Homo sapiens: one gene and its partners. The protein of the gene in region 3 binds, or shares a complex with, the protein of the main gene of each other region. Each region holds a gene or a part of one and is shown on either strand. Other genes may lie near its edges.

Region 1 (8,033 bases), on a different chromosome or scaffold from region 3:
CATTTGTACATCCTCTTTGGTGGGCTATGTGTTTAGATTTTTTGCCCATTAAATTTTTTTTTTTGCCAGGCATGGTGGCTCATGCTTTTAATCCCAGCATTTTGGGAGGCTGAGGCGGGTGGATCACTGAGGTCAGGAGTTCTAGACCAGCCTGTCCAAAATGGTGAAACTCTGTCTCTACTGAAAATACAAAAATTAGCCAGACCTGGTGGCAGAAGCCTGTAATCCCAGCTACTCAGGAGGCTGAGGCACGAGAATTGCTTGAACCCAGGAGGTGGAGGTTGCAGTGAGCCAAGATTATGCCACTGCATGCCAGCCTGGGTGACAGAGCAAGACTCCTTCTCAAAACAAAACAAAACAAAACAAAAAAAACAAAACATTTTTTTTTTGTTTTTTATTTGCCTAACACTTGATATCAACGTTTTTGCCAATTTTTCAATTAGGTTGTGTGTTTTCTTATTGTTGAGTTTTAAGAATTCTTTGTATATTTTATTGAATAACAGCCTTTTATCAGATATGTGTTTTGCAAAGATTATTTTTTTTCCCTAGTCTGCGGCTTGTCTTTTCATTCTCTAGACAGTGTCTTTCTTGGAACAAAAGTTTTTAATTTTTGATAGGGCAGGCTTTTTATTACTATGAAAATAAGATGTGAGAGATAGTGCCGCCGGGCGCGGTGGCTCACGCCTATAATCCCAGCACTTTGGGAGGCTGCGACGGGCGGATCATGAGGTCAGGAGATTGAGACCATCCTGGCTAACACGGTGAAACCCCGTCTCTACTAAAAATACAAAAAAATTAGCTGGGCGTGGTGGCGGGCACCTGTAGTCCCAGCTACTCCGGAGGCTGAGGCAGGAGAATGGCGTGAACCTGGGAGGCGGAGCTTGCAGTGAGCCGAGATTGCACCACCGTACTCTAGCCTGGGCAACAGAGCAAGACTCCATCTCAAAAAAAAAGATGTGAGAGATAGTGCAAAAATTTTCTTGATTACTAGAAAGATTAGGTTGAATGGCTTCCATGGTCTCTTTCAACACTAGCTTTTTATGGTTCTATGGAAAAAGTAATGGTGTGCTGTGAATTTTTACCCTGTGAATTGAAGGGTTCCCTGGCCCATTATAAAATTAATATATGTTAATGGCAGGAAGTTTAGAAAATGCAGTAAAGAAGAGAAGAAAATATGCAAAAAACAAAACAAAACAAACAAACAAACAAAAAACAGTGTGGCAGTGTGGCATTGACTGGGTGGAAGAATTTTGGATAAGTAAAAAATCCAAACAGGCCTGCCTACATTCCTCTCTTTCATTAGTTGCCAACTCAACAGGGCTGCATCTTCTCACTGTTTCAAAGCTTACATGGACGAAAAGACAGCAATGAAACTAATGAATACTCTGTCGGGAGCAGTGGGTCACGCCTGTAATCCCAGCACTTTGGGAGGCCGAGGAGGGTGGATTACCTGAGGTCAGGAGTTCGAGACCAGCCTGGCCAACATGGTGAAACTCTGTCTCTACTAAAAACACAAAAATTAGCTTGGTGTGGTGGTGGGTGCTTGTAATCCCAGCTACTCGTGAGGCTGAGGCAGGAGACTCGCTTGAATCCAGGAGGTGGAGGTTGCAGTGTGCTGAGATCCCGCCACTGCACTCCAGCCCGGGCAACAGTGTGAGACTCCGTCTCAAAAACAAAAAACCAAAAAACGAGCCCTGGCGCAGTGGCTCACGCCTGTAATCCCAGCACTTTGGGAGGCTGAGGCGGGCTGATCATGAGGTCAGGAGTTCGAGACCAGCCTGGCAAACATAGTGAAACTCCCAACTCTACTAAAAATACAAAAGAATTAGCCGGCCATGGTGGCGGGCGCCTGTAATCCCAGGTATTTGGGAGGCTGAGGCAAGGAGAATCACTTGAACCTGGGAGGCGGAGGTTGCAGTGAGCCGAGATCACGTACTGCATTCCAGCCCGGGCGACAGTGCGAGACTCCGTCTCAAATAAAAAGAAATGCCAGAATCAAGGGAAGGCCAGGCTGAAGCCATAAAGTGGCTGAGATGAGCTGGGGAGACAGGTGGGACAGATCTTAGAGAGCTTTGTTGATCTAGTTAAGGATTTTGGCTGTTGTTCTAAGTGTAATTGGAAGCTAATGAAGGGTTTTAAGCAGACACGCCATAGGATCTTACTTGCAATTAAGATAGAGAAGGTCAAGGGAGGGAGAGAGCCTACACAGGAGACAGAGAGTCATACAGAAAGACAGATGACTTGGGCTTTGAACAGATTAGGACAGCTGTAAGAGTGGATGAATCAGGAGGCTATGCCATTAGTACAGGTGGTAGATGATGGTGGCTTTGCCTGGGTGGTTGCAACATAGAGATAAATGGAGATATATTTGGGAGACAGAATTGATAGGACTTGATTAACTGATATGGCAGTGTAGAGAAGGAAGTGCCTTGAATGATCCGCTCCAGCAATTCATGTGGGGGATGTTAATTGAGATGGGAACTCTGTAGACGGAAGACTGGGGGAAGATCACGTGCTCAGTTTCTTGAAATGCCCATCTGGAGTGCCAGAAAGCCCACATAAACATTGAGGGCGTGGCTAGAGAAAGGAATTAGATGTCAGAGAACAGCTAGAGATTTTAATTTGGGAGCTTTGCCCAGGTTAAGGCACTTTAAAAAATTTTTTTTAATACCCAGGAAGGTCTAAACAAAGTGTTACATGTTTCAGACTCATTTTTATTCTTTTTTTTTTTGAGACGGAGTCTCGCTCTGTCGTCCTGGCTGGAGTGCAGTGGCGCGATCTCCGCTCACTGCAAGCTCCGCCTCCCGGGTTAACGCCATTCTCCTGCCTCAGCCTCCAGGGTAGCTGGGACTACAGGCGCCCGCCACCACGCCTGGCTAATTTTTTTGTATTTTTAGTAGAGACGGGGTTTCACCGTGTTAGCCAGGATGGTCTCGATCTCCTGACCTTGTGATCCGCCCGCCTCGGCCTTCCAAAGTGCTGGGATTACAGGCGTGAGCCACCGCGCCCGGCCAATTTTTATTCTTGTTTAATCCATGGTATGACTCTTATTTTCATAGTTTTCTATTAAACATTTTGTTTTTCATGTATATCATTAACCACGACCTCTGCATTGTGAACAAAAATCCCTATGGCTGAAGCAGCTGAATATCACATATGTTTGATAGTAAGGAATCTGGGGTGGTGGAGATCTCAAATCCTTACTAAACAGGTTGGCTATGTGGTGCTTTGGCTAAAACATACTTCATATCTGATCCAAGTAGCTATGAAAATAATCTAGCATTTTATGTGCTTGTGCACTTTGAAGAGTGTTTATCTAACTTTTCCTCAAACCACTGATTTGTTATCATAGCACAGAGCTCATCTGGGGAACCAGTAAGCTCTTAAAAATAAGCTTTTTAATCAAAAGGACATTGTTTCTATTTTTCATTACAGCTGCCCTGGATAAAATTAGTATCCATATCGCGTCTGTAATTCAAATGCCTTTGTCTTGTCTTTCTTGTACCTAGTAAACGATTATAAAGGAAACGTCATTTCACAGAAGATTTAGTTGCCAAGGTTTTTTTTAAAAGAAACACAGACATTTTTCTCAAAGTTGTTCTAACCACGCAGCTTTGTGCTGTTTCAAGTTGCTCAAACTGTGCCAGGAGGAAGCCCTTAACTGCTTAAAAGGCCAGGGACTGAAACGGAGTATTGCACAACCCTTCACCACCGGGCGGTTTCGCTTCCAAATCTGGCCTTCGTGTCATCCCAAGGCAGGAGCCGCTCCTCGCTCCACTGGAGCCAGCCCCGTTCCCCCTTCAAAAGCAGCCGGGGTTTCCGCGTCCAAGCCTGGGGCGCCCCTCCCTTCGCCGAAGGTTCCCGTGAAAGCGGAGCCGCGCGGCTGCGAGGAGGGCCCACTGTCCAGTTGGGGAGATCGAGTCTCCAAGGGCGACTCTCGCACTCGAGTACCGCCAGTCCGGCGGACCAAAGGTCCGCGGGTCTCCGCGCCGCTCCCCTCCCCCTTGGCCCCATTGTCTGCCTCGCCCCGCCCCGGGGGACACGTGCGCCTGCAGCTTCCCGAGGAGGAGAGCGCGGGGCGGTGGCAGCGGCGTGGACACCGCCTGGAACGGCTACGCGGCCGCGGAGCCGGGGGCGGGGGCCGGGCGCGCACAGACCGGTGGGTGCCCTCCGGGAAGCGGCAGTCGCACTCAGCGCCCACAGCACTCTGCCCCGCCAGCCCCGGACCGGGCAGGGATGGGGCGGGCGGGAGCTCGGTGGGGGTGGCGTGCGCATGGTGTCGCGGGGAGGGGGTGGGGTGGGGCGGGGTGGGGAGATGCCAGTCTCCTGACAAAGGAAAACGAGTGGGACACGCTGAGCCGGCCCGCCCCGCCTGGAGGGGAGAGGGAGGGGGAGTGTCGGGAGGGGAAGGGGCGGGCCTTTCATTCAGTCTCGGCCCCTCGGCCGCCACCGTCGGAGCGGAAGGGCGGGGTCTTGTGCCTCCCCCACCCCCAACCCAAGGGGTGAGGAGCGGGGAAGGCGGCGCGGCGTGGGGGCGGAGCCCGCGGGCGCGCGTCCCGAGGCGTAGGCTACGTTGTCACGTCAGCGCGGGAGAGAGAAAGAGAGGAGCCGACTCGGCAGGGACTGGGGGACCGGGCCGAGAGTGCGAGCGAGCGAGGGAGGGAGTGAGGGAGCGTGCGAGCCAGAAGGGGAAAGGCGGCCACTCGTGCCTGAGCGACCGCAGAGGGGAGTGGGAGCAGTGGGGTAAAGGAGCGGGGGGCGGGAATAAGAAAGGCCGAGAGAAGGCGGACAGAGGCTAGTGGTGGTGGTGGTGGTAGGGGGAGAAGGAGGAGCTGGAGGAGGGCAGGGGCTGAGGGAGTGAGTGAAGCGGACGCGCGAGGGAGGGGAGGGAAGGGAAGGGAAGGGAAGGGGGGGTCACGCGGGGGCGCGCGCGCGCACCGGGAGCGCGCTCGGAGGCGAGTGGAACTGGATCGGGTTTGCTGCCAGCGGCGTGAGCTTCGGCCGCCATTTTACAACAGCTCCACTCGCGCCGGACACAGGGAGCAGCGAGCACGCGTTTCCCGCAACCCGATACCATCGGACAGGATTTCTCCGCCTCAGCCCAACGGGGAGGTAACGACTGCCAGAACCTGGGTGTGGGAGGGGAGCTCCATGACATTGTGGAGTGAGCTGGGGGAGGGTGGCGCGGGTAGAAACCGGCTTTTCTGGAAAATGGATTCCAATGGGGAGAAGAGCACGTTGACTGGGGCTGCCTGGGAGTAGGCCGCGGCCCGCGCCGCCACTTCCTCCTTTCCATGTGCTGCTGCGGTTCGGGCTTTGTCTGCGGCGCTTTGGGAGGAGGCGCCTCCACGGTCCCGTGGCCCGCACGGACCGCGAGCGGCTTCAGAGTTGGTGCTGTCGTGGCGGTCGCCGCGGCGCGGGAGTGGGCGGAGAGGAGTGGGTCTTGTCCTGCAGCCGTGCGGCGAGCTTGGGCGGTGCTCACGGTCCCGCGGGCGTTGAGCCGTCCGCTGAACGCCCTCACGCTGCTGGGTTGCCGGGCAGGCGTCGCAGTCACTGCACGGAAGGGTAAGGGGTGGGGACCTGCACAGCGCGCCACGGGTCACGTCTCGGCCGGGCGGGCGGCCGGGGGTCGTCGGCGCCCGGGGAGCGCCAGGGGCGGAGAGCCATGTGTCACGGCGGAGACGGCGGCGCTGGGGGGCGGGGAGAGCCTGTGGCCTGGCGCCGCCGGTGCCTCGGTGTTCAGGGGAGAGATTGTGCTGCTGCAGCTTTCTGGGGGCTCCGACCGCGGCTTCGGGTTGATGTTGGGAACCAGTGATGGTCGTCTTGGTTTGGGATTCGTTGGGTTGCCGTTGAAGGAAGTTGTAGGACATTGGAAGGCGCAGAGCACGTGTTTCTAATGGGCTCCTGGCGGCCGCAGTGGTGAGACTGCCGCTCTGGGTGCGGAGTCAGGGGCGGGCTTTGGGGTGCGGGGTTAAAGGGTGGAGAAATTGGGTGGTGGGAAGGTGGCTTGTATGAGCGCTTTGTTCTTCGCTGGCTGTTGTTACCGATCTATAAGCGGCAGGCGGGAAAAGCGCGCACTTTGGGGGTTTATCTTTGAGAGAGAGGAGCCCAGTTTTGCTTTCTCCACACACACCTCATTTTCCGAACGGGCACAGCTGCATGTGGCACGCTGGCTCGTACCCGTGCTGATTGGGCTCTATTTGTAATATGGTTTTTCCTAGGGAGTGTTAGCAGGTGAGTCAGGGGTGGTGCTGAGGAAGAATATGGTGAATCGGTCCTTCTGTGCCCTGTGCTCCAAATCTGGCTTGTCAGGCGATAGTGACTGTAAGGCTTTTTTAAAGGGAGGTATAGGCTAGCTGGTGTAGTAAATGGTAGAGAAAGTAAAGATGGGGCTCTCATATTGTCTTGTATTCTTTTTGAAGATCCTAGTTTAATTTTGCTTATTGCGTTTGAACAGATCTCTGGAAACATGGCTACAGAACATGTTAATGGAAATGGTACTGAAGAGCCCATGGATACTACTTCTGCAGTTATCCATTCAGAAAATTTTCAGACATTGCTTGATGCTGGTTTACCACAGAAAGTTGCTGAAAAACTAGATGAAATTTACGTTGCAGGTAAGAACTAACACTTGCAAAATTACATTATGAAATTTTTCTATTGGATTTCTGGCTTTGAGCTAAAATAGCAACTTTTTGTGGTTTCCAATAAGTGTGGGTACTGGAGTTTTGCTTGTTGTGATAGTTGGTTAATTTAAGTTTGAAGTAGAGGTTAAGATGTATAGAGGGAGGGAAGAAGAGAAGGTTAGGAGCTAAAGGCTGGCTTGCATGCTGGCCTGATGGATAAGTATATGATAGTAGCAACAGCTGCTAAATGTTGGGAACAGGCCATGTGACTTTTTTGAGTATTTTTATAGTAGGATTCTTCTTAAATAACTTGGTAACTGTAGACTTGTTTTCTTGTCTTTCTGGTGCGGCTGTTAACTTTTTCTGGTGGTATTTGAAATTGAGTAGAGGTTCAGTTGTCATGCTTGGTACTTTGTTGGTTGATTCTAGGATTCGTAAGTCTGTATACTGTAAAAATACCGTAGTGTTCAGAGTTATCAGACTTTGGAGATAAAAGATGTAAAAGAAGTTAGCTGATTATTGTAAGTGTGGTTGGTAGGGCATATTTAGTTCAGGATTCAGTTCAGAGTGGCTGAAGTGTGTGTTTTTTTTTTTTCAGGTATAGATGAGGGGAGTAGAAGAATTGTAAAGGCACACATGTACCTGTATTGCCAACATAGTCTTCTCTAAAAAATCTTTTCTAAAAATATTAAAAGCTGATAACTTTTATTTTTTTCAGGGCTAGTTGCACATAGTGATTTAGATGAAAGAGCTATTGAAGCTTTAAAAGAATTCAATGAAGACGGTGCATTGGCAGTTCTTCAACAGTTTAAAGACAGTGATCTCTCTCATGTTCAGGTAATGTTAATGTCAATGTGAAAATTAAAAAATTTGAGTAGTTTTGATACTATCTGCTGAATTTTATTAGACTCAGATATGGTTATTGTTAAATATTAATGGAACATTTTTTTGCAGAACAAAAGTGCCTTTTTATGTGGAGTCATGAAGACTTACAGGCAGAGAGAAAAACAAGGGACCAAAGTAGCAGATTCTAGTAAAGGACCAGATGAGGCAAAAATTAAGGTATGTCTTTCTATACTCCCTTTAGTTTTAAAGTCATTTTAACTGTTTCCTAATTTTGGTAAATATTCCTTGGGTATGAAATGGATGTATGTTAGATGTTGAGATAATTCATCAATCTTTCCTAATTCCTTTTTTTAAGTTTTTTTAAACTATTTGTTTCTAAAGCAATTTGCTGTGAAGTTTATCATGTTATCCAGCTACTGATGTTTAAATCTGTTCTATTGGTAGTCCTAGTATAAAGAAACACACCCATGATACCTCTAGAATATTTTTTGAAAAGCTGCAAAGCCAGCTTATTGACAGTTGAAATACTGATGGAGAATGTACATTTGGCAACTGGCTTTT
Region 2 (7,000 bases), on a different chromosome or scaffold from region 3:
GGCCAGGATGTCTCGGATCTTCCGTTGAGCCATCTGCAGCAAGAACAGGCAAGAGAGTGGGTGTGAGACCTCCAAGGAGACAGCCTTCCACGGAAGAGAGGTCATCAGGTCCAGACACAGGCAATAAACAGAACAGGTCACACAGGACTCAGAAGAAAGATAAAGAGGAAGAATGAGGGTTGGGGTGACCTTACATTTCTTTGCCTCCAGTGGAGCCTGAGTATCCCCTGGAAAATACAGCAAACGTGGTGGGTGTTAAGTGGGAGATGGGGTTGGGGGACTTGAAGGAAGGAGAAACAGTAGTATCAATCCATTCATCAGAATTTAAAACTTGACAAAGTTGATAAACATTACCAAACGCAAAACAGAATGCCTAGAGTTTCTAGGCAGAAATATATTACATATTGCAGAGCAGTGGTCCCCAACTGTTCTGGCACCAGGAACTGGTTTCATGGAAAACAATTTTTCTTCCACGGATGGAGGTGGGGGTGGGGAAGTGGTTTCAGGATGAAACCTCAAATCAGCATGCAGTAGATTCTCATAAGGAGTGTGCAACCTAGATCCTTCACATGCACTGCGCATCCCTCGAGCACTTCACAACAGGGTTAGCCCTCCCATGAGAATCTAATGCCGCCCTGATCTGACAGGAAGCGGGGCTCAGGAGGTAATGCCCACTCGTCTGCCGCTCACCTCCTGCTGTGTGGCCCGGTACCAGTCCGTGGCCCGGGGTTTGGGGACTCCTGTTGTAGAGGGTCGTAACTTAGAAGACATCATCACAAATCCACGCTTCATTTTAATACCCCAGGAAAAGGAATAATATGTCTAGATATGGCCAGGTGCACGGTGGCTCATGCCTGTAATCCTAGCGCTTTGGGGAGCTGAGGCGGGTGAATCACCTGAGGTCAGGAGTTCGAGAGCAGACTGGCCAACACGGTGAAACCCCATCTTTATTAAAAATACAAAAATTAGCCGAGCGTGGTGACGTGCGCCTGTAATCCCAGCTACTTGAGTGGCTGAGGCAGGAGAATCACTAGAACAGGGGAGGCGGAAGTTGCAGTGAACTAAGATTGTGCCACTGCACTCCACCCTGGACAACACAGCGAGACTCCATCTCAAAAAAAAAAAAAAGTAAAAATAAAAAATAAAGTCCAGATATGGGTTAGTCAAAAAGCATAAATACATAAGCTTCACTGTAAAAATGGACAAAATACCCAATCTTTTATTATTTCCTTCTTAAAAGGTTCTTCCCTAAGAATAAAGTTTTATAAAGGAAATAAACTGCAAAATGGGATTCACTTCATAGAATGAAGACCAGAATGTCTCCTTTCCATAAATGAGTGCTTCCTTTCCTGGTTAAAGAAGCAGCTGAGGCTGGGCATTGTGGCTCATGCCTGTAATCCCAGCACTTTGGGAGGCTGAAGCAGTGACATCACTTGAGCCTAGGAGTTTGAAACCAGCCTGGGCCACATGGTGAAACCTCATCACTACAAAAAAATACAAAAATTAGCTGAGCGTGGTGGTACCTGCCTGTAGTCCCAGCTACTTGGGGGGCCTGAGGTGGGAGGATCACTTGAGCCTGGGAGGTAGAGGCTGCAGTGAGCTGTGGTCACACCACTGCCCTCCAGCCTGGATGGCAGAGCGAGACCCTGTCACAAAAAAAAAAAAAAAAAGAGGAAGTTGATCTAGGTTGGGAAAATAATGTGTAAGTCAATAAGAGGTCCAACTCCATCAACCCTGGCTTGATGTTTTACATAGCTTTTCATTTAATTCTCATTCTGATCAGCTAAAATTGCTTCAGTGTTTAATATTAATATATCCTGGCTTTATGCATCTTTGGAGGTATCCTTTACTCTCTTTAAAAAAAAAACGCTGAATTAAAGATTCACATTTACCCTCTTAAGCTTCATTTATAAAATGAAATTGTTGTGGGAATTAAATGAGTTAATATACATAAGCCACATAAAACAGTGCTGGGTATACAAAGGCATCGATAAATCTTAGATATTATTATTATTATGGCTCTTATTAATACTTTTTTGTTATTTTATATATATATATAGTTGAGATGTAACTAAAGCCTCTTGTTAATACTTCTCAAAGGGTTATCAGAGAAAGTTACTTATCCAAGGTCACATAGCAGAAAGGCTATGTATGTGAAGTTTGAGGTCAAAGCTCCCTGGATCCAAAACCTTCATACTTGATGCTATACTATATGGGCACTGGAAGCCAAAAAACCAAGAGCCAGTTTGCCCCAATTGCTCTAGCAGCCCCAGCAGACCACAAGCCTGCTAAGATCTGGATATCTTCTATGAATTGTAGGAACTGTGATCAACAGTCTCCAAAGTTCCTTTCCAGTTCTAACAATGATGGATTTAAGACTTTAGGAAAACACCATTAGCTGCCAACCACCTGTTTGCTTGCCTTGCTGAGGTTCAGCAAAATTTGAACCTGATATTGGCCTTCCCTTCCATGCTCTGGAGCCTGTCCGAGTGCTGAACGGCAATGATGAGTTCTGGGAAAGGAATGGGAGGGTGGAAGAGCAGAAACCAGGGAGAGAACAGCCATTCTGCGAAAGGCAGAGGGACTACATTTCAAAAATGCCATCAATCCAGGGTGTTAGTACTGTTATCATTATTCCATGAACAAAACTAATCTTCTTTCTTAACCAGTGCAGAAAGGGGTTAGGGAGGGACTAACGTAGAACATATATATATATATTTACATATAATATATATTCATATATATGTTATTTATATATATAATGTTATACACAATATATGTACATTAAACTTGTCAAATCACTTTTCCTAGAGAGTAATAAGAGGTAATATGTCATCTACACATCCCACTTCTGCACCTGAAAGAGGGCAATAACCTAGCCTAGAGGCAGGCAGATGTGGCTGAGGCCCCAGGACTTGTCAACGTCATGAAGGTCAACCTCTATAGAGTCTCTGCTTCTCTGCTCCCTGGGCTCCTGCAGCCCTCCCTCAATGGGGGAGCACCATATGTACCTGACTGGCATAGAAATGTCCGATGATTTTCACGATGACCTGGTCGTTCTCATCAGGGGTCTGGTCTCTTGGTACTACCACCTCAGCTGCCGTCAAATTCTGCAACTCGTTCACCTGGGGGTGGCCAGAGAGGAGCTCAGGGTGCCATCAAGAAAGCATGGGTGGGGTTGGAGGGAGGAGCCAGGGTGACTAGTGGGGAGAACCTGGAAGAGTCAGGACCTGAGCTTGGGGAGTAGAATCAAGTAAATGAGCAAATCAGGAGTCCTGAGGTTGAGCAGTACAGGAGACCAGAGAGAGCTGCTGAGATTGGAGACCAAGGCCCAGGGCTTTCAACCTGGCCCTCACAGCTCACCGTTTTTCCACCTTTGCCAATGACCCGGCCAGCTGCTGATGCTGGCACACGTATGTGGGTCTCCAGCTTCACTTCCTCCTTGGGACCAAAGAAGTTCTCCTCCTTGAGTTTGCCATAGATTCTTCCCTGAGCCTGAGAAGAGGAGGTAATTGTTAATCAGTGGTTCATATATCTGTGACAAAAGAGAAAAGTGGGAAAAAGGAAGCTCCAGCCCATATTTTCTGGCCCACAGGCCCTCCCCATCCTAGGCGGGCTAACCATCTAAGGCAGGTGAAGGGCAAGGCTCAGGTGGGCAGCTTGTCAGCATTCCTTCTGCTTAGCTATCATACTGGAGACCCTGGGTGGAGATTATGAGTTATGAGTAATTGAATAAACACTTCCCAAGGGAAAAAATAGTTCCCAGAGGAATCTAATTCACAAGCTACAAACCAGACCTATGGAATCTGGACGTGGCACTGACCAGCATTTCAAGGCCCTGAATGGCAACTAATCAAGTCACACAGAGGGCAGGCCTGTCTGACTCTCCAGTGGCCCAGAGAGCTGTCCCAGTCCTCTATCCTCACATATGTTAGGTTAAGCTAGTTGATGGTTCATTTTTTGGCTGTCTGATCAGAAGTTCAAGAACCTTAGGATTTAGTGGGGACATAAAAGATGAGAATTTGGCATTAAAGGCCTTCCTTAGAAATGACAGCAGAGTGCAAATAAGATGCCCTCAGACTTCTTTCCTTCCCATCTTCTTCTGTGGACCTTAAAAAGGGAAGACGAAGTCAACAGAAATCCAGTTTGATGTCAATTTGAAAATAGCTCTGCAGCCCTTTATCCTGCATGGAAGGCTTAAAGATGTGATGAGGACTTGACAGCTAACGGGAAACTGACCCAGCCTTTTTCCTACCTCAGGGGAAATACCCAACCTCAATTCCTCCATGTTCAGCTTGGAAAACAATAAAGACCAAAACCTTGAATTGGGCCTCTGGCGGTCCAGTGATGATAACCATACGAACTTTGGAGTCAGGTGTTTCGGGTGGTGCAATCTAAAAAGCAAAAAGCTAGTCAATGAGGGACCCTCTATGGGAAGACCCCCACCATGTCCACTTCATCCAGTTCCCCTTCTACCACCCTTACTCCCAACTACCCATTCTGAAGACTTAGGGGAGGAAGAACAAAGACCCTGAAGCCCACATCATTACGCCTTCACACCAGAATTATTAGGAGGGCAGAGGTGGTCAGTTAGAAGGATTGGCTTCAATGACACTTTCTAAGTAGGGCCTCCTGCCCCCTCCACCTACCAATCTCCCAGAGAGGTTTCAGTGGAGTCTTGCCAACAGGCAAGGACACAAATGAAATGACCAACGGATAGAGGGCAGTGACTGCACCTCCACTGGAGAACAATCAAGGTTTTTGCTCAAAGCTTTTAAGACAACTAAAGCAACCGGATTTAGGTTTGTGAAACTCTAACAGCATCCTTGTTTCACTATGACAGATTCTCCCTTCTCTCTCCCCTGGACCTTGGCCAGGGAAGGTGACAGACAACTAACACTTACTTGGTGTTAGTATGTGAGCGAAGGGCTTTGGCTGCGTAGCCTCATAATATTGTACTGACGAGGAAAGTGAGGCTCAGATCATATAGTGTATTGGGGGAAGGGGTGATGAGATGGATCTTGGATTTGAACCCATCAGTTTGTGTTAGAACCTAAGTTCTCTTTCTATGTTATAACCCTGCCCCTGCCCAGCCTGAAAACCCAGAAGCACTGAAGCCATCCCATGGGGACCAAGCAAGATCAAAAACAAAGAGGACTTCGATTCCATGGGGGAAAGGTCCCTCATATGACACACAGAATTCTCAAATGAGTAGGGGGAATATGGGAGAAAGTGCAGAGTGATAAAAGCAGAGACCCCTCCCTTTCCAGAAACAGGAAGACCCACAGAGCAGATCACCTTGATGGAGGCGCTGGCAAACCGGGAGAGCTGTTTGATGTGCTGCCCCTTCTTGCCGATGATGGCGCCCACTGCCTGGGCGGGGATAAACACCTGCACCATCTCCTGCTCGGGAGCCTGCTGCCAGGATAGGAGGCGTTGTTACCAGGGGGCCCAAGTAGCATGGCCCAGAAACCCTCCACTCCCCTGCCTTGCATCCTCAAGGAGGAAGGAGTACAGGCACCAAACCGCCACCCTGGGCTGCCAAGGGATGCTGTGAGCTCTTTAGCTCTTCCTATGCCCAGTAGGGCTAAAGGGAAGAGGCCAGGAGAGAGTAAGGGAACAGTGCTGTCTATGCCCCGGGAGCATTCTAGGCAGACATTTGGGAGCCTCAGAGCCAGTGGCTAGGAGCACTGGAGAGGAGGGATGCCTCTGAGACCTTCCTTCCCTCTCCCTGCAAACTTGCCAAGCATCCAACTCCCAGAGCATGCTGAGTCCCCCTTAAGGGAGGCCACATATGGGCCCAGGGATCCCGTGTAATAAGATCTTCCACCTACCATAAAGGAGCTATAGGGAGCAGCCCCAGTAACGCTGCTGGGAGGCGGCGGGACTGCGCTGGATGAAGCTGGGAAAAGACCTACAGCAGCCAGGTTCAGGCCAGGGATCAGGTGAGACTGCAGCTGGGGAAGAAAGATGAGGAGGAAGAGTCAGCACACCCTGACAGGGGCTTGTGTGTGACCCCCGCTGTATAAAAGGCGAGTAGCCCCAGAGGCAAGTGGGCCAAAAACATGAATTACATACTTTTCCACAAAAGCCTATTCTGTGCTTTTCATACACTCTCACCTACACACTTCGGGTGTGGAATTTTAAGTGATATGATGTTCTCACTGGACTAACGGCTAGCAATTGCAACCAGAAATGCCAAACAGTTGTACACCCTCAGGAGTCCTTCCTCTCTGGCTGTTCAGACTGCTGGAGACAGACGATAGACCCATGACACTATACTATAACCCCCTATATGAGAAAAAGGCGTGGAGACAGAGCTCCATTGGACTTCTAGGACTCTGATTCTAAACATTTTTGGTCCTGTACCCCAACCCCAAGTCTCCTTTAAAAATCAGATGAGTTGTGTGCAGTGGCTCATGCTTATAATCCTAGTACTTTGGGAGGCCAAGGTAGGAGAATCGCTTGAGCCCAGGAGTTCTAGACCAACCTGGGTGACACAGCAAGACCCTGTTTCCAAAAAATAAAATTTTAAAAAATTAGCTGGGCATGGTGGTGTACACCTGTAGTCTCCTAGGTACTTGGGAGGCTGAAGCAGGAGTATTCCTTGAGCCCAGGGGGTCAAGGCTGCAGTAAGCTATGATTGCGCCATTGTGCTCCAACCTGGGCAACATACCAAGACCCTGTCTCAAAAAAATAAAATAAAAATCAGATGAAAACGATGGACCCCCTCATTTCAATAAAGTGCACACAAACACAAATTGTACACATACTTGGAATCACAGGACTCAAAGCCCAAGATTGGACCCCTACTCTAGGAACCAGGTGAAGAATCCTTGCTAATTAAATACTATTTAAATACTATTTCTGATAGTCGAAGTCCAAAAGCATCAACTAAAGCTCCAAGGCCACACGGCACAGGGCACATGTCCATCACCCTGCACCCCACAAGCTGCTGTTGCTAAGACTCAGGAAAGGATAAGCAGAGGGTACTACCCAG
Region 3 (4,936 bases):
AGGCTGGGGAACCAGGCTCAGTGTCACCATCTAGGTGAGGCAGATAGGAGGAAACCATTGCTGCTGCAGCATCACCAAAGCACAGCGACTACCCTCGCTAGCAAAAGGAGTTTGCATAGCTTCCTAGCAATGTCTCCAGGTCTCATGTTGGTGTATCTGATTGGCAGAACAGGTTCTAAACCTTGATCTTGGCTGCAAGTTTTCTGGGTAGTTTTTGAGATGTATAGCCTCTGTAGTCCTTACAAATAATCCGTAAGTACACAAAATACTGGGCAACAGAACAGGAGACAGTATCTAAAAACATGTACGTAGTTCTGTTTCCAACACTAGCACCTAAGATTGTATTCCCCCAAACAACTGTCCTCCTCAATGTGTTTTCGAGAATCTCATTCTAACATTATTGGATGTTTAACCAATGTTTTTGGTCTTCCCATTTCCATGATATCCTAATACAGATGCTCTTCAATTTATGATGGGTCAATGTCCCCATAAACCACAAGTCAGAAAATCATTAAGTTGAAACTGCATTTAATGTTGGCAACACTGCAGTCAACTTACAATGGTTTCATTTATGATTTTTCAACTCTGTGATGCCATGAAAACAATGTTGATTCAGTAGAAACCGTAACCCCACTAAAAGCCCCTAAGTCAAACCACTGTTTAAGTCAGGGACTGTGTGCGTCTGCAGTTGTAAGTAACAGTTTAGATGCTACCAACAGTTGAAGTTTCAGGTCCACTGCACTCTTGCCAACACAGTATTTTCATGAACACCAGCAAGAAATAGGCTAACTCACTTCTGCAGTACAGATATTTACACTAAGTAGGGTTAAAAAAATTTTTTTTGAGTAGTCTCTTATCAAGTCCTCTGCAAAGAGTTAGTCCCAAGCAGGAGATGACTTCCACAGCACTGCAGGATTCCTGATGTGCCACTCTGGCCTACTCCCGACCCCTACTGTCTGCTTCCCCTGGGCCCTGATAGCTGGCCAGGATGATCTGGAGTGTTTCGGGGCAGCAGTCACTATCAACTACATGACTATTTCACAAAGCAAGCCAAAGAACATCTAACAAAACATTAGAAAACAAAAGCCAGAGAGGCCAGGTGCGGTGGCTCACACCTGTAATCCCAGCACTTTGGGAGGCTGAGGCGGGCGGATCACAAGGTCAAGAGATCAAGACCATCCTGGCTAACACAGTGCAACCCCATCTCTATTAAAAATACAAAAATTAGCTGGGTGTGGTGGCACGCACCTGTACTCCCAGCTACTAAGGTGGCCGAGGCAGGAGAATCGCTTAAACCTAGAGGTGGAGGTTGCAGTGAGCCAAGATTGTGCCACTGTACTCCAGCCTGATGACAGAACAAGACTCCGTCTCAAAAAGAGAAAAGATCAGCCAGACTAGGCTTAGGATTTAAGGTGTTGAGAACCACATAATTACAAGCTCACCAACCTCCATGTTCCTAAGCAGCTTTCCCATGGGTTTTATATTACTTGTTTCCATCTCTAGGACATAAGGAGCTGAACCAATATTTGATGACCACACCAGGCAGTGTGACAGGTTGTCCTAACACTTCAATTGGCATCTTCAATTGACACACTGAAACAAATTCTCCCAAGGTGACAAAACTAAGTGGAGCAGGATGAGAGTCTGGTCGGTCTAGGCTAGAGCAATGCCCTTTTAAACAATGCCTCACAGCCAAAGGGACCCACCCAAAATCTACACTCAAGTCTTTCTTACAAATGAGCTAAATCCTTCAATGAAAAATGGCCAGGTTATCAGAGTATGTATTTTCTAATTTTTAGTATGGGCCCACAGGCATGCCACTTAAAGGATTAGAGATTTTGAGACATTTTACCTGAGGGAATTACCAGTGAGCATCATCTATTTGTAGACTGGGTCAAGCTAAGGGTCCTATAAATAGCTAAATACTTACAAACTAAAGCAAAACTAGACAAATTTACACAAAGACAATTATTTAAGACCTTTATTAACAGGTGCTTGCAGTTTGTTGACTTTTTTGAAAAAATCAAGTTGTAAACTTTTATTACAAATTAAAAATGAAGTTCTTAAAAATCTCAACTTGACCAGATATGAAACAATTTAAAAACCTTTAAAGGCGTATTGAGAAAAACCAGGCTTTTTTAAAAAACACGTTTGTTATTACCAAAAAGAGACGTCTTTAGGTAAAAATAATAAAAACCCCATGCTGCATAGATAATGCAGATAGTTCTATTTATCTGGTCAACGGGCAAAAAGCAAGCACTTTAGGTCTTCAGCTCCAATCTTTTGTTCATTTCTTATTGCTGGAATTTCATATTTCTTCTTGTTGGATGACTAAACTGTAAAGAAAAAAATAAAGATGATCATGTAGAATTCATGGTGATCTTCATTTAGTGTAGTACATGCCCTAGTTTACATTACTTGTGTATTGGGAGACATTAACAGATCTCTTGCCATCCAGCAAATAGTAAACGGGAAAAAACCAAAAGCACCACTGGTTGAATGCTAATTTTGGAGGGAACAACAATCACGTACCTCTCGATATCATGTAAAAAGCGAAATGAAAAAGAATCCCTTAATTTTGGAATTAAGGGTAATAAAAACAAGTGAGCTAATGAGCTAAAGTAACAAGAACGTAATTGTATCATGTGGTCTGCCAGAGAATTATTATTATTAATCTACAGGCAGTTTAAATAAACCATGATAAACCACGTGTCATTCTAGGAGTTTTTTAGACACGAAACACTCTCGTCTTTTTCCGGGAACAACATAAACCAACAAAAAAAAAAAACAATTAGAAATGATTAAAAGATTATATTAATGTTGCCACTTTCTCCAAACAGACTCTATTTGTCACCATCTAGGTTAATTCTAACAGCTATCCCCACTTCCTTTTTGAAATAATGCATAAATAATAATGTAATTAACATATTTCTCAGAATACAGCTAGCAAAACTTTCCTCTGTTTACTAGTGAAATCATAAAATTCATTCAGAAAAGTTGATAGAAAGCACTAATAGTTCAAAATACTCATGAAAATACAGGTCTCCAGTGTCAGAATTGAGAACTAGCTGAAGGGTGGCCAAATATGACTCTGATATTCAATATTCCTAAAATGAAATATTAGGTAATTAAGAATAGGGCAGAACACATTATAAATAACATGGCTTTCATTATCTGATGGAACTGAGGTTTTTCTACTCTTGCATTAATAAAACGAAATGGTCACCACTCACGACTGCCATAAATGGATGGCCATCCAAGCTTGCTTACCCGGATGATGGTAGAGATGGTAAGCCGGCATTTACTCAGCCCCGCCCTGCTCAGCCTCGGGAGCGGACGAATTCTCAGCTGGTGGATCGGCTGCTTTTGTCTCTTTGCCATCTTGTGGTTTAGGGTTTTCTGGGCGTCTGCGTCGGTAATTGAAGTTGCGGCGGTACCGACGTTGAGGTGGCTGCTGACCTTGGGTCTCATCTCCTTGATTTTCTTTATCTTCTTCATTGCCGTCCTCTCTAGGCTGTCTTTGGCGAGGAGGGCCCCTGCAATGAACGGTGTCAAACTTAAGAATGATAAAACCTTCTCTCTTCAACACACCCACCAGTGTAACCAGTTGGTTCACAACTAACTCACCATGTCTGGCCCATTCTGTATCAAGTGGTCTGTAGGCAATTTGTGTAAAGAGATGGGTTTTTTTTTTTGGGGGGGGGGGGATGCTGAGTAGGGGGAAGAGTCTTGCTTTGTTGCCCAGACTAAAGTGCCATGGAATGATGACAGCTCACTGTGGCCTCAATCTCCCAGGCTCAAGTGATCTTCCCACCTCAGACTCCTGAGTAACTGGGACTATAGGCAAGCCCCCCACGTCTCATTAATGTCTGATTTTTAGTAGCGATGTGTTGCTATGTTTCCAAGGCTGGTCTTGAATTCCTGACCTCAAGCTATCCTCCCTCCTTGGCCTCCCAAAGAGTGCTGGGATTACAGGCTTGAGTCTTTTAATCACCAAGATAAAGATACTAAATTTTGGGATTTTCTTTCCCCCAGTGCTCAGAAATGATGGATTCCTGGCCTTTCCTCTGCCCATACTCTGAGCACTCCAGAAAGCCCCAGGCCTTTAGTATCCATGAGTCATCATGGGAATAAATTCACATTTACCTTTGTACATTCTAAAACTCTTTCCCCACATCTTTTGGAACTCATGATGAATCTTCAACAAAATTGTTCTGACTTTTCTCTGCAACCCTACAGTGGTGACTGTTCTAACCTTATTGTGGCTTCTAAATCAACTCTCCCAGTTTCTAAAAACTAGGCTTTCCATCTTATTTTGGATTCTGCTCCATTTACTATCTTTTTCTTACTGCAGTTATTACTAAGGTTCGAGTGTAACAGCTTCTAATAACCTGGGCTTTCAGACTGACCTCCCAGTCCAGCTGTTTTCTACCTGGGTTTTTTCAATTATACCACTCAACTTTCCAATTATGTACCTTCCTATTTTTCTTAGGTAATTCCTTATTGTTTTCTCATTCTTAATCTAGGACCTGTAATACAGCGATTCTATCACCTATTCATCTCACTCCAAGGTTGGGCACAGTGGCTCACACCTGTAATCCTAGCACTTGGGGAGGATCACTTGAGGGCAGGAGTTCAAGACTGCTTGAGTAACACAGTGCAACTCCATTTCTACAAAACAATTTAAAAAAAAAAAAACAACCCTCATTTTCCCCTTTTCTCCCCTCTTTATCCAAGTATAAAGTCTACCACTAATCATATGACCAATCCCTACCCCAGTGTCTTCATCTGGATAAACCAGATCTGGATAAATCAAACCAGATCTGGATAAACCAAATCTGGATAAATCCAACTCTCTGCCCAACCTGAGCCTGATGCCCAAATGGCTAGAAACACAGAGTCAAGCTGGGTGAACTCACTTCTAATTTATGATCGT
Region 4 (4,795 bases), about 200 Mb from region 3:
ATTGATGTTTTTTCTTTAAAAACAAAATTTTCTCTTACAGCAATTCTGGGGTCAGAAGCCATGGAGTCAGCATTATCACCAAGGATATTATTGAATACCCAAATAAAACGAACTGATACATATTTCTCCAAAACCTTCACAAGAAGTCGACTGTTTTCTTTAGTAGGCTAACTTTTTAAACATTCCACAAGAGGAAGTGCCTGCGGGTTCCTTTTTTAGAAGCTTTGTGGGTTGATTTTTTTTCTTTTCTTTTTTGTACATTTTTAATTGCAGTTTAAAAGTGAATCGTAAGAGAACCTCAGCATTGTGCACGATAAGAGAATGTGTCAGTATTTCAGGGTTCTACATTTTATCTGTAAAATGTGACTTTTTTTTTTTTTTATCACAACAGAAGTAAAATGTTGCTTTGTACCTGGTGTCTTTTATTAAGAATTTACTCCCCCCATTTCTCACAGAGAATAACAGTCGGGAGTCATTGTCACAATATAATAGAAATGTTAGCAACCAGATTCATGTAAGGACTAAGTGGTCCTCATGAATTGCATTAAGACTCTGTACTGCTCATATTACACTCCATCCTCTCTGTAGTTTGCTGGGTAGTGGAGGGGGTAAGCTAAATCATAGTTTCTGACAATAACTGGGAAGGTTTTTTCTTAAAATAACAATGGAATTGGTATAATTGGGATTGAAAACTAAAACTTGGAACTAAGATAGAGAAGATGGAGTGTATGTAGAAGGGCTGTTAAAAATGTAAAACTTGGTTGCATTATTTGTGGAGGCTCAAACTTGTGAAGGTTAATACCATAATTTTTCCATTTGTTCTGCATTTTGATTCTGAAAAGAAAGCTGGCTTTGCCCATTTCTTATTAAAAAAACTTGTTGTAAATCCAGTTGTCTAATGGGATCTATATGAAGTTAGCCATGTCTGTATGCCCTTCTCCCACAAAATACTGTATAACTAGTGTGCTTGTAGTAGTTAACTCCACCATCTTTGTAAGCTAATGAAATTGTGAGTCACCCATTTATATCTTAATTTTTAATCATGTCAGTTCTTGAATGGGTATCTCCTTAGCCTGCTGATTTCTTTTTCTTTCTAAAGAAAGTGGGTGGAGAAATTAATTTAGACGTTTGTTTGCAATAAAAAGAATTCATTTTACTCTTGTTTTGGGATTCTCGCCATCAAGGTTCAAAATCCCTTTATATAACTCCCAAGAGGAGAAATTTATTAAGTGTGTGCTTTCTGGACAGCTTATTCTTTACTCTGCATAGAACATTTAGGTTTTAAAAACTTAAATGTATACTGACAATTGATACATAATTATGAAGTAAAGTTGAATTCTTCCCTTCCCCTCCCCCCCAGACAACTTTTAACATATTTAATGAGGGGAAAAGGTACTGGCTGGGAGAAGTTAACACTGAGTTTATCATCTTTACAGAATGCTAATGCTGTCCTCAACTGATTATTTTATATACATATATATGATACATGAAACTCTGGGATCAGATGCTTTTAGAAGCCATCATGCAAGCCAGTCATTGATGTCACTGCTACACAACACTGCTAACTTGACTGTAGCTATGTAATAACATTAGATCCCCTAATTGTAATTATATTGGGTTTGCACAGAACACTTTAATCTTCCCCTCACCAATGTGAAGTGAGGAATCAGGAGTCAAACTGTAGAACTAAAATTTGACTTCAGTCTAGCGTTTCCTTGGTGTTTTTAGGTTGCTTTGGTAAGTTTAGGTTTGCTATATTTCTGATTGCTTAGAATTTTGTTTTAGCCCTTTAAAATCAGATCATAAATATGAATTCATACTTCTAAGGAATTTTCTTGCTATAAGCTGGAGTTTAGGTGATGTATAGGTTCAGTTGAGACATTTTTGGAACAGGCAAATCCTTAGTTAACATAAGATATTTAACAGTTGAAGATAGTGTCATGGATTTTTATCTTTTTTAGCAAGTAATGCTAAGAACCACTGGCCTGAGCTACTACTCTTCAGTATACATTATTAGGATTGCATAGACTTACTAGAGGAACAGTTTCAGGTTTTGATGCTAATCAGTGTTGTGTCCTAAAGTTGTCCTTTGTGCCTTTAAAAAGTTTTGGATATATCTTCTAGTTTAAAATTGCTTATTAAGGAATTCATTTTATAATTGCAGTGGGAAAGTAATGGTCAAGTAACACTAGGTAGACTATCATGCCTGTTTAGCCCAGAGAATTTGGGGGGAGAGAGAATAGATAAAAATGGCACCCAGAAAAATGTTAAAATCTTTAGTCAAGACTAGAATTAATACAATTGTCTACACTTGTATGGCAGAAATAACCTTATAAAGTGTTTAAGGAATTCAGAGAAGGGAATGTACCAAATAAGCAACAGGGAGAAAATTAGGTAAGAAGTAAGATACGAACGAGAAACCTGATTTATTGCTCATCCTTCCCTTGCCTCCCTAATGGCAAGCAAAACTCTGAACATCTGAAAAGGATGTAGTTCTGGACAAATCCTGACTACCCAGAGGAAACTCACTGTGAGATTGCTGTTGATTTGAAGGGTGCTTTCACTAAGGTTATATTTTAAAGTAGAATAACACATGCTGAGTGTAAACTGGCTTTGGATTGGTCAGCTGCAGTAGTACAAAAACAGCATAGAATTTGAGAAAACTAAAACTGCTATGAGATAGCTATGAGAAAACTAAAACTGCTATGAGATAGAAATGATGTAAAATTATGTGGAAAGTTTTCCCTCATATACTCACATACAGCCTTTGAAGGGCTCTGGCTCTGACCGGTTGATGGCCTTGAGCGAGATGAAATCATGAAATTGAGTCAAATCAATTTGACATTGAAATGACAAGAGGAAACTCTTAAATACATAAAAACAAGCTCTCATTTGCCTAGGATAGATACTGTCTTAAAAATAAAGACTGAACCTAGATGTTCTGAGCACTAGCAACAAGGTATTTTAACAAGTTTAAAGGAATTCTCTGAAAAAGTTATAAAATTATTCTAGGAAACATAACCATAATAGTGTTTTAAGGGACTTTCACCTGGGGATTTTATATTCATGAACAGAGTGTATTCTGTATTTAAAATGTCTCATTTGTGGGAATTGGATGACATGTTTTTTGATAAATTTATTCACAATATAAATTGACTTTTTATTCTAGGACCATGTGAATAATGGGTTCCATTGCACAAATACAAATATTTTAATAGCTTCTTAGGCAGTGGTGTAGACATCTTGGATATAAATAATTGTAGATCTTGTATATTTGATTTTTAAAAAACTAGAATAAACAGAGAGGCATAAACATATCTTAGAGTCCAAGTGGTAGTGTTTAGCATTGGATATAATAAATGGATGTTTTACAAAGTGTTTCCATAATTCTCTTCCTATACATAAATGTCTTGTTTTCAAAAGTGGATGGAACTTGGCTGGGTGTGGTGGCTCACGCCTGTAATCCTAGCACTTTGGGAGGCCAAGGCGGGAGGATCACTTGAGCTCAGGAGTTTGAGACCATCCTGGGCAACATAGTGAGACCTGGTCTCTTGAAAAAAAAAAAGTGGATGGAACTTGTAGCAGAGAATTTTATCTACTTCTCAACCTGCTTCAGAATACCCATTTGAGATGTTCCCCTGGAAAGATGAACACAATACTGCATCTGAAGCCATTTCTTCCCACCTAACATTCTTAAAATGATTAGAGTCTAAACTTTGTCATTCATTCCTAATTCTGGAGCTCTGAGGTTGAGGTGTTCAGAGTTTGGTGAATAATTGGGTTTAAGTTTTAACATTTTAGTAATAATAAAAGCAAACACATACATGTTAAGGCCTGACAATAGGTTGCAATACCCATGCATTGGGACTCATACCCAGCATAAATGGTGAGGGACTGAACATTAGTGCTTTGAGCAAGAATTGGTTAACTACCTGAGATCTCTAAAACAGTAATTTGAATTACTAATACATAAACCACAAGTCTCTTCGAATTGTTAATTGCCTAAATTTACCCTAAAACTTAGTTAACGCTGCAGTGCCTTTATTAAAGCTTTTTTTTGGGGGGGGGTGTGGGCACAGCTACTCCATAACTTTAAATTTTAAAGCATGAAGGTGATCTAGCTAGTGTTAGTGCTTGAGTTGGTAGTTACATAGGCTGCTCTTGAATCGTCCTGTTTTCTTTGCCTAGTATTAGCACCACAGGTACATATTTGTAAAATAAGCATTAAAAGTACTTTGTCCAGCTAACTCATGTTGGAGTGACCTTTGTCTTACTAACCTTTGTTACTAAACTTGTTAATTAGAATAAGCCCTTGAGAATTTGGAAGTGAGCTATACTACTAATGTAGTATATATCTCTTGAGTGTGTTGGAGTAGATGAAAAACCAGGGGTCCCCAAGGGTATATTTTTGAAATTGAACAGAAACAATTCATCTTAATATTTAGTTTTCATTATGTTTAGCTTAATATGTGTGCTAGTTTATTTGGCGTCACACTTATGTCAATCTCAAGTCATGCAGAAATAGCACAGTCTCAGAAAAGAGGTTAGGTGGGAAATAGATGATATGCTTACATTATTGAGCAGGACTATGCTTTCACATCCTAACCAATTGACTAAAAATATAAATGATTGAAGTAATTTTCATTAGTTGCCCCAGGAGTCTTTAATAATAGTTTTAAGGGATAGTAGATTGGACATAGATAGATGGGTTATTCATAATGGATATTCATAATGGATATTCATAATGTTAACCTAGAATTATTCAGAAAATATAACACCTATGTAGTAGAATCTA

The links.
Region 1: YBX1 (region 3) and SYNCRIP share a complex: the UniProt entries of both Homo sapiens proteins name them as parts of the coding region determinant (CRD)-mediated complex.
Region 2: YBX1 (region 3) and IGF2BP1 share a complex: the UniProt entries of both Homo sapiens proteins name them as parts of the coding region determinant (CRD)-mediated complex.
Region 4: YBX1 (region 3) and HNRNPU share a complex: the UniProt entries of both Homo sapiens proteins name them as parts of the coding region determinant (CRD)-mediated complex.

The regions. Positions count from the first base shown.
Region 1 is NC_000006.12:85,639,876-85,647,908, reverse strand, and holds the start of SYNCRIP (heterogeneous nuclear ribonucleoprotein Q), read left to right. Parts: upstream 1-5,022; 5' UTR 5,023-5,112; intron 5,113-6,457; 5' UTR 6,458-6,469; coding exon 6,470-6,617; intron 6,618-7,344; coding exon 7,345-7,463; intron 7,464-7,580; coding exon 7,581-7,688; intron 7,689-8,033. UniProt on the Homo sapiens protein: Heterogenous nuclear ribonucleoprotein (hnRNP) implicated in mRNA processing mechanisms. Component of the CRD-mediated complex that promotes MYC mRNA stability.
Region 2 is NC_000017.11:49,042,385-49,049,384, reverse strand, and holds part of IGF2BP1 (insulin-like growth factor 2 mRNA-binding protein 1), read right to left. Parts: intron 5,958-7,000; coding exon 5,835-5,957; intron 5,419-5,834; coding exon 5,299-5,418; intron 4,395-5,298; coding exon 4,320-4,394; intron 3,496-4,319; coding exon 3,364-3,495; intron 3,126-3,363; coding exon 3,012-3,125; intron 34-3,011; coding exon 1-33. UniProt on the Homo sapiens protein: RNA-binding factor that recruits target transcripts to cytoplasmic protein-RNA complexes (mRNPs). This transcript 'caging' into mRNPs allows mRNA transport and transient storage.
Region 3 is NC_000001.11:42,699,381-42,704,316, reverse strand, and holds the end of YBX1 (Y-box-binding protein 1), read right to left. Parts: intron 3,537-4,936; coding exon 3,302-3,536; 3' UTR 3,271-3,301; intron 2,337-3,270; 3' UTR 512-2,336; downstream 1-511. UniProt on the Homo sapiens protein: DNA- and RNA-binding protein involved in various processes, such as translational repression, RNA stabilization, mRNA splicing, DNA repair and transcription regulation.
Region 4 is NC_000001.11:244,849,749-244,854,543, reverse strand, and holds the end of HNRNPU (heterogeneous nuclear ribonucleoprotein U), read left to right. Parts: intron 1-40; coding exon 41-94; 3' UTR 95-4,247; downstream 4,248-4,795. UniProt on the Homo sapiens protein: DNA- and RNA-binding protein involved in several cellular processes such as nuclear chromatin organization, telomere-length regulation, transcription, mRNA alternative splicing and stability, Xist-mediated transcriptional silencing and mitotic cell progression.